2 linked regions of the Homo sapiens genome follow. The protein of the gene in region 1 interacts with the protein of each later gene in a pairwise test. Each region holds a gene or a part of one and is shown on either strand. Other genes may lie near its edges.

Region 1 (4,771 bases):
ATTTCAAGATAACATACAAGTTTATTTACATTTAAATTTTCTGGCAAGTACGCTCCTCCTAATTTTGTTTTTTTTTCTTTAAATCAACAAATGGTGTATATAAAAATCCCCTAATCAGACGATTGGAGAAAAATCAAAACTCCCATGAAATGAAATGATGCCAGGTCACAGCTGAGAGTAGCTGCAAAGAGCTGAAGGCCAACTTGGACTAGGCGTTCTCACCTGAAGGCTCTCTACCACAGGCACAGGAGTGACTGGGGCAAGGACAGGGCCCATTCCCTCATAAAATGTATACTCTGCCTTATCTGTGCTAATGATTGTCCAGGAAGCGCCATCATTTATCATCTCTTTATTTGGTTCTTTTGGACATGGAGTGGCCTAATAAAGAAAGAAGTTTAGAAACTAAGTTTTATACAGTTTGTATTAATAGGATAAGAAAATTTTACCAAGTAACCCTCAGACAAGAGTTAATAAGAAGATAACTCAGTAAAAACTTATAAACTTTCTAAAGTATGGTGCTTTGCCAATCCCTACATAAACACAAACAGAATGCTAATACAGAAACCCCATAGACAGCAGTTTTTCTTATAATACAAACTATTTCAGTGACATATTAAATAATAATACCTTTCAGAACAACCATTATGAGTATACCAATGCAGGTACAATTTCATTAACAGCAGATCAATATCTGTGATGTAAATGGCTGTTTAAAACTCTTCAAGGACTCCTAAGAAAGACAATGGGACTCCTCATGCTTAGGCAACAGCTAGAAGCTTATGCATGTTCCATGGGAGGGAATCAAGATGGGAAGGCAAAGCCCCTACCCCTACCTTAACACACCTAGACCAGGGACTCAGCATGCCCATCAGTGTGTATGGGCATCTCTCTGCAAAGGAGTTTCACATGAAACCATAACTGTCTTATTAAATCATCTGCCCATGTCATAACCTCATGAAAGCCTTCTGAGTAAATGTAAAACATTAGCTTTCAAAGCATGTCATCATTACTATCTTCGGAAACCACGACATAAATCTGATGAGATTTTGAGCCTTCACCCAGAAAAATGCTTTGTCTATACAATGTTTGCACACAATTTCAGAGGATTCAATGAGCACTGAAAATCTATTTTTGGATATCCTGAGGGGCTCTTTGTTCTTCAATTAAGAACCCTGGAACTAGATGTTAACTGTTTTCTCTGAGAACATTTTCATAATTTTGAGTTCTTCCTTGAGGAAGGATTGCTTGCATGTCTGAGGATTGTGTGTTAAGGATGCTCATACCTGAGATAAATATCTGTGTATAGCTTCATGTATTTGTATATAATTAACAGCAAATGAAAATTTCATATTTTTGCAAGCTGCTAACCTCACAGTTTGTACATTTTAGATTTCACCAGTAATTTAAAAACATACCTGAAATTGAATTATTCTTTCTTGAGAAAGGCACAAATACATTCTTTCTGTATCCTTAAGGTAAAATGCACATTTATGGAGTTGTGACACAGGATCATCTGCATCCAATAATGCGGTCTGCTTATCAACTTTCCTAATTATCTATATTTAACAATTAAGAAATAAAAGGTCATCCACACATGGAAAGGATTTTCCTTGTGTAAAACATCAAAAGTACATAGAAGCTATATACTGCATAATAATACATCACAGTTATTTGTCCTATGCCTACATATATAAAAACATTCACAAACAAAAAGACTAGGAATAAAAAACACTTTTAGATTGCAAGCATGTCAGAATGTAGAAACTGTTACCCTCTTCCCTGAACATCTAAAAAAAAAAAATCAGGCAGGCAGGCACTTGTTTTCTAGATCAGTGTTTTTCAAACATTAATGTGCACATAAATGAGCTGGGGTTCTTGTGAAAAACACAGGTTCTGATCTAGCAGGACTCTTGTGGGGCCTGATATTCTGCATTTCTAACAAAATCCCAGTTGATGTTAATGCTGCTGGCCTACAGACCATATTTTGAACAGCAAGTTCTAATGATATTTTCCAATAATATGCATAAAATGACAAATACTCCAACATCAAAGGGAAAAATCTCTAGAAGGCTACTGTCAGTGCAAACGTCTTATATCTATTATCCAAAACTTACGTATTTAAAAACATAACAAAATCAAACTCATTTTACAGATTACAAAATGGGCTTAGAAAGGTCAGACAAATTGCTCAAAATTACCAGTTTAGTAGCTGAAGGACCAGAATATGTCCTGATCCCAGGGCTGGCTGCCTGTCCAACTGATCTCTAAAGCTTATAACGCAACTAGTCTACAAAACACATGAATATCTGAAAGATAATACTATCAAACCCTATATGACACTTGACACCTAGAAGGTAATGGCTAAGTAGATGATCATGATGAAGAGCAAAATTTGACACAGAACTTTTACTCTGTTTCCTTTTCTATTGATCACTTCCAACAACATACAAACATAACTATCTCTCATCTCAAAATCAAAAGTAAAGAAAACACTGACTACATGCTCCTGTCCCTCCCTCTCACTACCTGTTTTTCTGCAAACGCCTCTTCCTCACTGTCCAATCTCCTGCAATCTCTCCAACCTTTTATCTCAAAGACGCCACTACAACTGCTTTTCAAAGCCACCAAGGATTTCCAGACAGATGCATCTCACGGCACTTTTCTGTCCTCATTTTACTTCATTTTCTCAGAAGCTCTCAACACATTTTGCTTTCAGGACCACAACTGCTCCAACTGACCTTTAAAATGCCCAGAGCTGAGTTCTCAGCCCTCTTTTCCTCTCTTTATAATCTATACTGTTTAAAAATTTAAAGGTTGACAACTCCCAAATTTATTATCTCCAGACTTCTCTCCTGCATTCAACTTGTATGTACACTTAACTACCTATTCAACATTTCCACTTACGATGTCTAACAGGCACCTCAAGCTTAGCATATCGAAAACAGATTTTTGGATTTCCTCCTAAACTTGATCCTTCCCCAACTCATCTAGGTCAATAAATGGCACTAGCATTCACTCAATCCAAAAACCTTAAGAGTCACCCTTGATGCCTTGCTTTCTCTCACACCCAACCATCCAATCTGCCAGCAAATTCTGTCAGGTCCACTTTCCAACAAATCAGTCACCCCTCACCACCTTAATACTATGATCCTGGGTCTAAGATAGCATCAACTCTTGCCTCAATTATGACAACAATCCAAGCACCTGTCTCTCTGCTTCCACGGCCGCATTGCTATGCTCTCTTCTCCACACAGCAGCCACACATATACTTCTAAACAAAAATAGGCCATCGTGCCCCGTTTAAAATCCTCCAGTGGCCTTCTAACATGCAGAGATAATATGAAGTCCTTACCCTAGATACAGAGAGGGATCCTACAAGGTCTTGCTTAGTGCTAACCTTACAGATTCAGTTCCTGCCACTTGACCTCTCCTCCCTCCGCTCCAGCTCCACTGGTTTCTTTACTAGTCATCATACATCCCCTGCCTTCAGTTCTGTACTTGTTCTGTTTGCCTGAAATGCTCCTCACTCAATTACCGGTTCTTTGACTTCATTCTGGGCTCTCTTCAAATACTGCGACTTCAAAAAGACTTCCCTGACCTCTCTAAGCGCTCCTCCAATTCTCTATCCCTTTATTATCTTGTTTTGTTTTTTCATCACTACATAAATCCTTTACATGGGTATTTGGCTTATCACTCTATCAAAATGTAAACTCAATGACGAGAGGCACTCGACTTTGCATGTCAGAATTCCTGTCATGAAACCCCTGGAAAGATTTATGTATCAGCGTCTTAATAATGGTACTGCAACTTTTTCTAATAAGTTAATTTTTCATTGCAACATTTTTATATAAAGCCATACAGTTTTGAGTGTAAAAACCTCAATTAATGACTTTCAAGCAAGGCAGGCTACTGGTACTTTACAAACAACTGTAAATGAAAACATTGTTTTAAATTTGGGTCTGTCTTCTAAGTGGTTTGTATTATAAACTATTGGTGATCAGAATCATCCTCCTAAGTTGTGCTTCTGCAGTACAAGCATTTAACACCAAAGCAAATGAACATCATCCTTGGAACAGAGGAAATGAATGAGAAGAGAAAAAAAATGAATAAATGCTGATTCAGATTTTTTGCTTGCTTCTGTCTCCTGCTCTGTTTTTCATGCCCTTCATTCCCTAACGTTACCCTTTTTATTATAATTTGTCTCAGCTGCAAAGCTTTACAGATTACTATTACTATACTTCATGTCTTCTAGCTTATTGCATTGACATGGGAAATAAAATCACCTTGTACAATCATGACAGAGGGTAAAAAAAAAAAACAGTAACAAAGAAATGAATCACTGGCTTAGAAAACTGTAGATCAAACCAGCCTCTGCTGAAATGACCCCAGAAAATATAAGCCAGTGGAATATTGCACCAAAAAGATAAATAGGAGGCATGTTTAGGAACATTAATACTAAATGTTCTTCTACTCACCCAACCTCTTCAGTCTGACCTTGAATCAAACTTACTCATAAATCCCCTTCATCTTGAATATAAGTAAATTATATTGTTTGAGAAAAGGAGAGGGAAAATTGGGAGGGTGGTGGCACTATAGAGGACTTTTGTTTTCATTTTACTAACAAAAGTAGTTTTTACAATTTCAAGATCTCCTTTTCTGTGGTTGTTGAGATAGGATCTCATTCTGTTGCCCAGGCTAAAGTCCAGTGGTACGATCACCGCTCATTGCAGCCTTGACCTCCCGAGCTCAAGTGATCCTCCCACTTAAGCTT
Region 2 (5,211 bases), on another chromosome or scaffold:
TGTAATCTATTTTATCAACGTATCTGTAATCATCTATTTTATCAACCAAATTTTGAGTTCTCAAAAGATCTGGAGTCATTTCTGTCAGTGTAACTCTACGTAGCCTCTGTCATAATAATGTGAAAGTAGAAAGATACTTGCTAAATATATCTTGATTAAACCTGACTTGTTTCATCTCCTAAACCTAGAACTTTAAACTCAGAACTTTGGTTGATAGGAGAAGGTTTAAGTATAAAAAAAATGTGAATAAGACTGCATTGTGAAAAGTATTACTACTAAGAGCATTTTTTTGTATTATGAAAAGTACCGTAAGATAGTCATGGAATTTGGATAGTGGCCGGGTGCAGTGGCTTACAACTGTAATCCCAGTACTTTGGGAGACCTAGGCAGGTGTATTATTTGAGCTGAGGCATTCAAGACCAGCCTGGGCAACATGGCAAAACCCTGTCTCTACCAAAAAAAAAAATATATATATATATAATATATATACATATGTAAAATATATATTATATAATATATATTATATTATATATAATATATGTATTATATAATATATAAAATATATAATATATATTATATAATATATAAAAATATATAATATATATTATATAATATATAAAATATATAATATAATATATATTATATGATATATATAATATATAATATAATATATAAAATATATATAATATAATATATATTATATAATATATAAAATATATTATATGATATATATAATATAATTTATATAATATAATATATATTATATATATTTTATATATTATATTATATAATATATTATATATATCATATAATATATATTATATATAATATATAAAATATATATGTACATATATAAGTAATATATGTACATATATAATATATCTTATAAAAAGACAATTTCTTATATAAGAAAGTTGAATAGGTACTGGTAAAAATAATAGTTGTTACTCTTTATTAAGTACTATTTGTCGAGCACTTCACTAAGCACTCTATTTACAGTCATACATTGTGAAAGTGTGCTAAATTTATATACTACACAGAGTTTTCAGTTGGGATTTTTGAAAAATATAAATGCTAGAAGAGTAATGATTGTTTAATAGTCTGTATAATCTCTGTAACACTGGGGAAATACATCATTTTCTTGACATAGTTGGAAGTACTGTAAAGAAGGCATGCTTTCTATAACATCTTATTAAAATTACCCATCTTGTGATGAAAACTGATGAAATTAGTATAACCTCTCATCATGATGGCCAAGCTTTGTGACCCTTTATTGGAGTGGTTTTTATTCTAATTATTAACAAGTTTGGTGTCTGAATTCATTCGATATCTAATAAAATTGTTGACAAGGAAATGTAGTTTTGACACTTCAGAAGAGACATTTTCTACTTTATAAAATTAAGTTCCTACATGTGAAATTTGAGAAGCCACCAAAGTAAACATTCTATTATTCATTTAAAGCTCTTAATTGAGCCGGGCGCGGTGGCTCACGGCTGTAATCCCAGCACTTTAGGAGGCTGAGGCTGGCAGATCACGAGGTCAGGAGTTTGAGACCAGCCTGACCAACATGGTGAAACCCCGTTTCTACTACAAATACGAAAATTAGCCAGGCATGGTGGCAGTTGCCTGTAATCCCAGCTACTCCAGAGGCTGAGGCAGGAGAATTGCTTTAACCCAGGTGGCGGAGGTTGCAGTGAGCCGAGATCGTGCCACTGCACTCCAGCCTGGGCAACAGAGCAAGACTCCATCTCACACACACACACACAAAAAGCTCTTAATTGTATGAGCACCTCTATGCCATTTAGAGGCAACCAGTATTAATATTTAAAATTCAATTTTATTTAAGATTGTATTATCAATGTTAACAACCAGACTGAATAATTAAAGGGCCATTAAAGTAATACATAGGAATTAAACATTTTGTATAGAAGAAAAAAATTAAAAACCCTCTTGGTTTAAAATGAAATATTAATATAAGACAGGTGTTTTTGTTTGTTTTTAACTAAATAAGGCTTTTTTTCCTAAAACTATGACATCATTAATAACTTCCCCCATACTCCAATAATAGACAGTTTTTCCCCATCATCTCCCTAGTACCTAGGGCAAACTTACAGTTGTTCTTCGCAATATGAATGGAATGGTAAAGCCTGGAAAGTCCAGTAAAATATATTATCTTATAACTGAGTTTTTCTCACCAAATTTTTAACCACATCTGCTATTGACAGGTAAACAAATTTGAACTGATTGCCTTTTGCTTTCCATGATAATATGCAGGTGAGTGCGCAAATAAGTGGTAAAAGACCAACAAAGCAGTAAAAAGAAATAGACAAAGTATTCAACCAGCAAACTAAAGAACTCATTTCTGAATATTTTTCTATCCCCCTACCCTCCCGTATGAACTCCTTTTTGGCAGTAACTGTCTCATTCTTCCCTAAGTGACAGACACATCAGCTGGAGTACGTCATTTAAGCCAGTGTAGGTGATTTAGGCTGGCAACTTTAAATAGCTGCCATGAAATGTTGTCATTAGTTTGCTATCTGCAGGGAAAACAAAATGAAACAGGAATATACAAAATGAGATAAGAGTCTCTCTTACCTTACATAAACCTTATGTTTGAGGGCAGGGGGCAAACCTTTAAAAAAAAATTATTTATTTATTTAGAGACATGGTTTTGCCATGTTGGCCAAGTTGGCCTCCTGGGCTCAAGTGATCCTCCCGCCTCTGCCTCTCAAAATGCTGGGATTACACGCATGAGTCACCACTCCCAGCTGAAAATTTTTAAAATTTATTGTTAGTTCATATTTGGGAAACAAAAAGCTCACTTTTCAGTCTGAGATTTTGCAAAAGTGGAAGTGTAGTGTAAAAAAATATAAAACATACATACCAATAGCCAGCCTAAAACTGCTTGTTAGCAACCCAAGCTAGTAATTAAAAATTTTGAAATCTGGGAATAAAAGCAAGATTAATTAAAGTACTTGGTGGTTACCCATAGGTGTGTGTGTGTGTGTATGTGTGTGTGTGTGTGTGTGTGATTAGCAACCACTTGGCAATGTATTCAGTATTGTTATTTGACAAATAAGGATGAGGAATTTTGAATTGGAAATAAGGATGATAAATTCCTCATGTACCTTTAAAAATACATCTTTTAAATGAACTCTTACTGAGAGAATAACTACTAAAAGTTTAATTGTAGTTTTTTATTATAATATTTTGCTTTGATTTTATACTAAAAACTGCCAACCAGATAACATCTAAATGTATCTTTTTCAATATGACAAAGTTACATAAGAAGACTCCCCTTGCACGTAAAGAAAAATGCAATTATTTTCTATTCTGAATCTCCAGACTGCTGTTTTAGAAAATCATATCTGATTATTTGCTCAGCAGAAGATTATTGAGTTGATTTAGCTGTGATTTTACTTAACAAAGCTTCAACTGCATTCCTACTGTGGAGTCCGAAAAAGGTAGAGAGATATAAATGATACATTCAAACTGTGATTTTTGTGAACAGGGCCATCGATGCACCCCTCGGAGCTAATAGCGGAGATGAGAAACAGTGGGTTTGCACTGAAACGAAATGTACTGGGGAGAAACTTGACCGCAAATGATCCATCACAGGTAATGATCTTTTTATCAGTAAGCTGAAAATGTCTATAAATCTAAATGTGATTGCTTGTGAATTGCTACTTAATGTTTTCCAATATGCATATATCCATAGGAAAGTAAGATAGAGCAAAGAAAATGCCCAAAATGTGTTTTGATTTTGCTTTATTATTTTAATCTAAATGAGAAATTGTTTATAAACCTGTATTTTAATAAATGAAACTGCTCCTCTGAGTTTATGTGGATAAAATATCTAACTGAACTGGTGATGAGGTTGTTGGTTTTTCCTTCCTGCTAACTTACCCCTGATATGACATTAAATAGAACCAATGGTTAGAAGTATGTAAAAACTCCTAAAAATTGTAGAAAATATTTTAAACTTATTTATTTTATTAAACTATACATAGATCCAGAAAATGATTGAGTTTGAAGGGCTATATTATTATATATTTGATAATGTGCTGTTGAAATTATAATAAAAGCTAAAATTGTGGATATTTTGACATTCCTGTAAAACTCATAATCTTCTTTTTTATATTTCATTAAATTAAAAATAAAGTATTTAAACTGGCAAGAGTTAACATTCAAGAGATAGAGAATGGAAGTCATGCTCTAAACATTTTATCTGTGTGTGTCTATCATCCTTTTCCTGGAAAAGTTTCCTAATGCTGGCAAAGCAGTCATGTTAACCTCTTAGTGCTGTATGATCCACTTCGGCAGGGAGACTACAAAAAAATTTTTTAATTCTCTCCCACTTCCCAATCCAAAATATCATATTCATCTACAGTGTGTCCCTGATACAAAACTTATTTATAAATGTTTTCTTTTTTATCTACTAACTACCTTGTGTTGAAATCTAGCAATTTAATGATATCTTTGTTGACTCAGGAGTATGTTGCAAGTGAGGGTGAAGAAGATCCAGAAGTTGAATTTTTAAAGTCACTAACAACCAAACAAAAACAGAAACTTCTCAGGTAATTTAGAAGTATATATTTAATAGATTTATTTTTTCCTTAGTATTCATCTCAGTATCGTATTCAACTCTGATCCTAAGAGCTCATGAAGGTCCTTATACCATGCATCACATTTATTGATTATTCTTCACCCATAGCTAATACAATTTTGTCTGTCTTTTCAGTAACATGGAAATGAGTGTAAGATTGTATACTCAGATTGTACCACAAAACGATTGCACTTTTCAGAATGTTTAATTTAGAATTAGACTTATTTATAGCTTTTACTTTTCAAAATAGATTTGTGTGTATCTTCGCACACAATTTGTTCTTAGGAAACATTTTTGGCCATTTTTAAAATGTTTTGTAAAATTTTATGAGAATGCAGAAAGAATGCTTAAATTTAAGGTAAACGTGAATTTTGTTAAACAGACTACCTCTGAATTAAAAGAATCCAAGAAATGTCTGCTGGGTCCAATAGAGGGAGCTCATGATGCTTTCAGTATGTAGAGTTTTGAGAATGGCTAGACAGAACCTAGAGACTTATTTTCAGAGTAACTCAAACATACCATATAAACAAGTTACTCCTCCAAGAATGTGAAGTACTCTAGAAATTCAGAATGTTTTAATAGGATTGTCCTATTTATAAAACTAA

Evidence for each region.
Region 2: the proteins of RBPJ (region 1) and CIRSR interact in a two-hybrid assay, tested with the Homo sapiens proteins (one study listed by BioGRID and IntAct).

Annotation. Positions count from the first base shown.
Region 1 is NC_000004.12:26,425,505-26,430,275, reverse strand, and holds part of RBPJ (recombining binding protein suppressor of hairless), read right to left. Parts: intron 1,557-4,771; coding exon 1,416-1,556; intron 379-1,415; coding exon 223-378; intron 1-222. UniProt on the Homo sapiens protein: Transcriptional regulator that plays a central role in Notch signaling, a signaling pathway involved in cell-cell communication that regulates a broad spectrum of cell-fate determinations.
Region 2 is NC_000002.12:174,350,026-174,355,236, reverse strand, and holds part of CIRSR (corepressor interacting with RBPJ 1), read left to right. Parts: intron 1-3,511; coding exon 3,512-3,618; intron 3,619-4,491; coding exon 4,492-4,577; intron 4,578-5,211. UniProt on the Homo sapiens protein: May modulate splice site selection during alternative splicing of pre-mRNAs. Regulates transcription and acts as corepressor for RBPJ. Recruits RBPJ to the Sin3-histone deacetylase complex (HDAC). Required for RBPJ-mediated repression of transcription.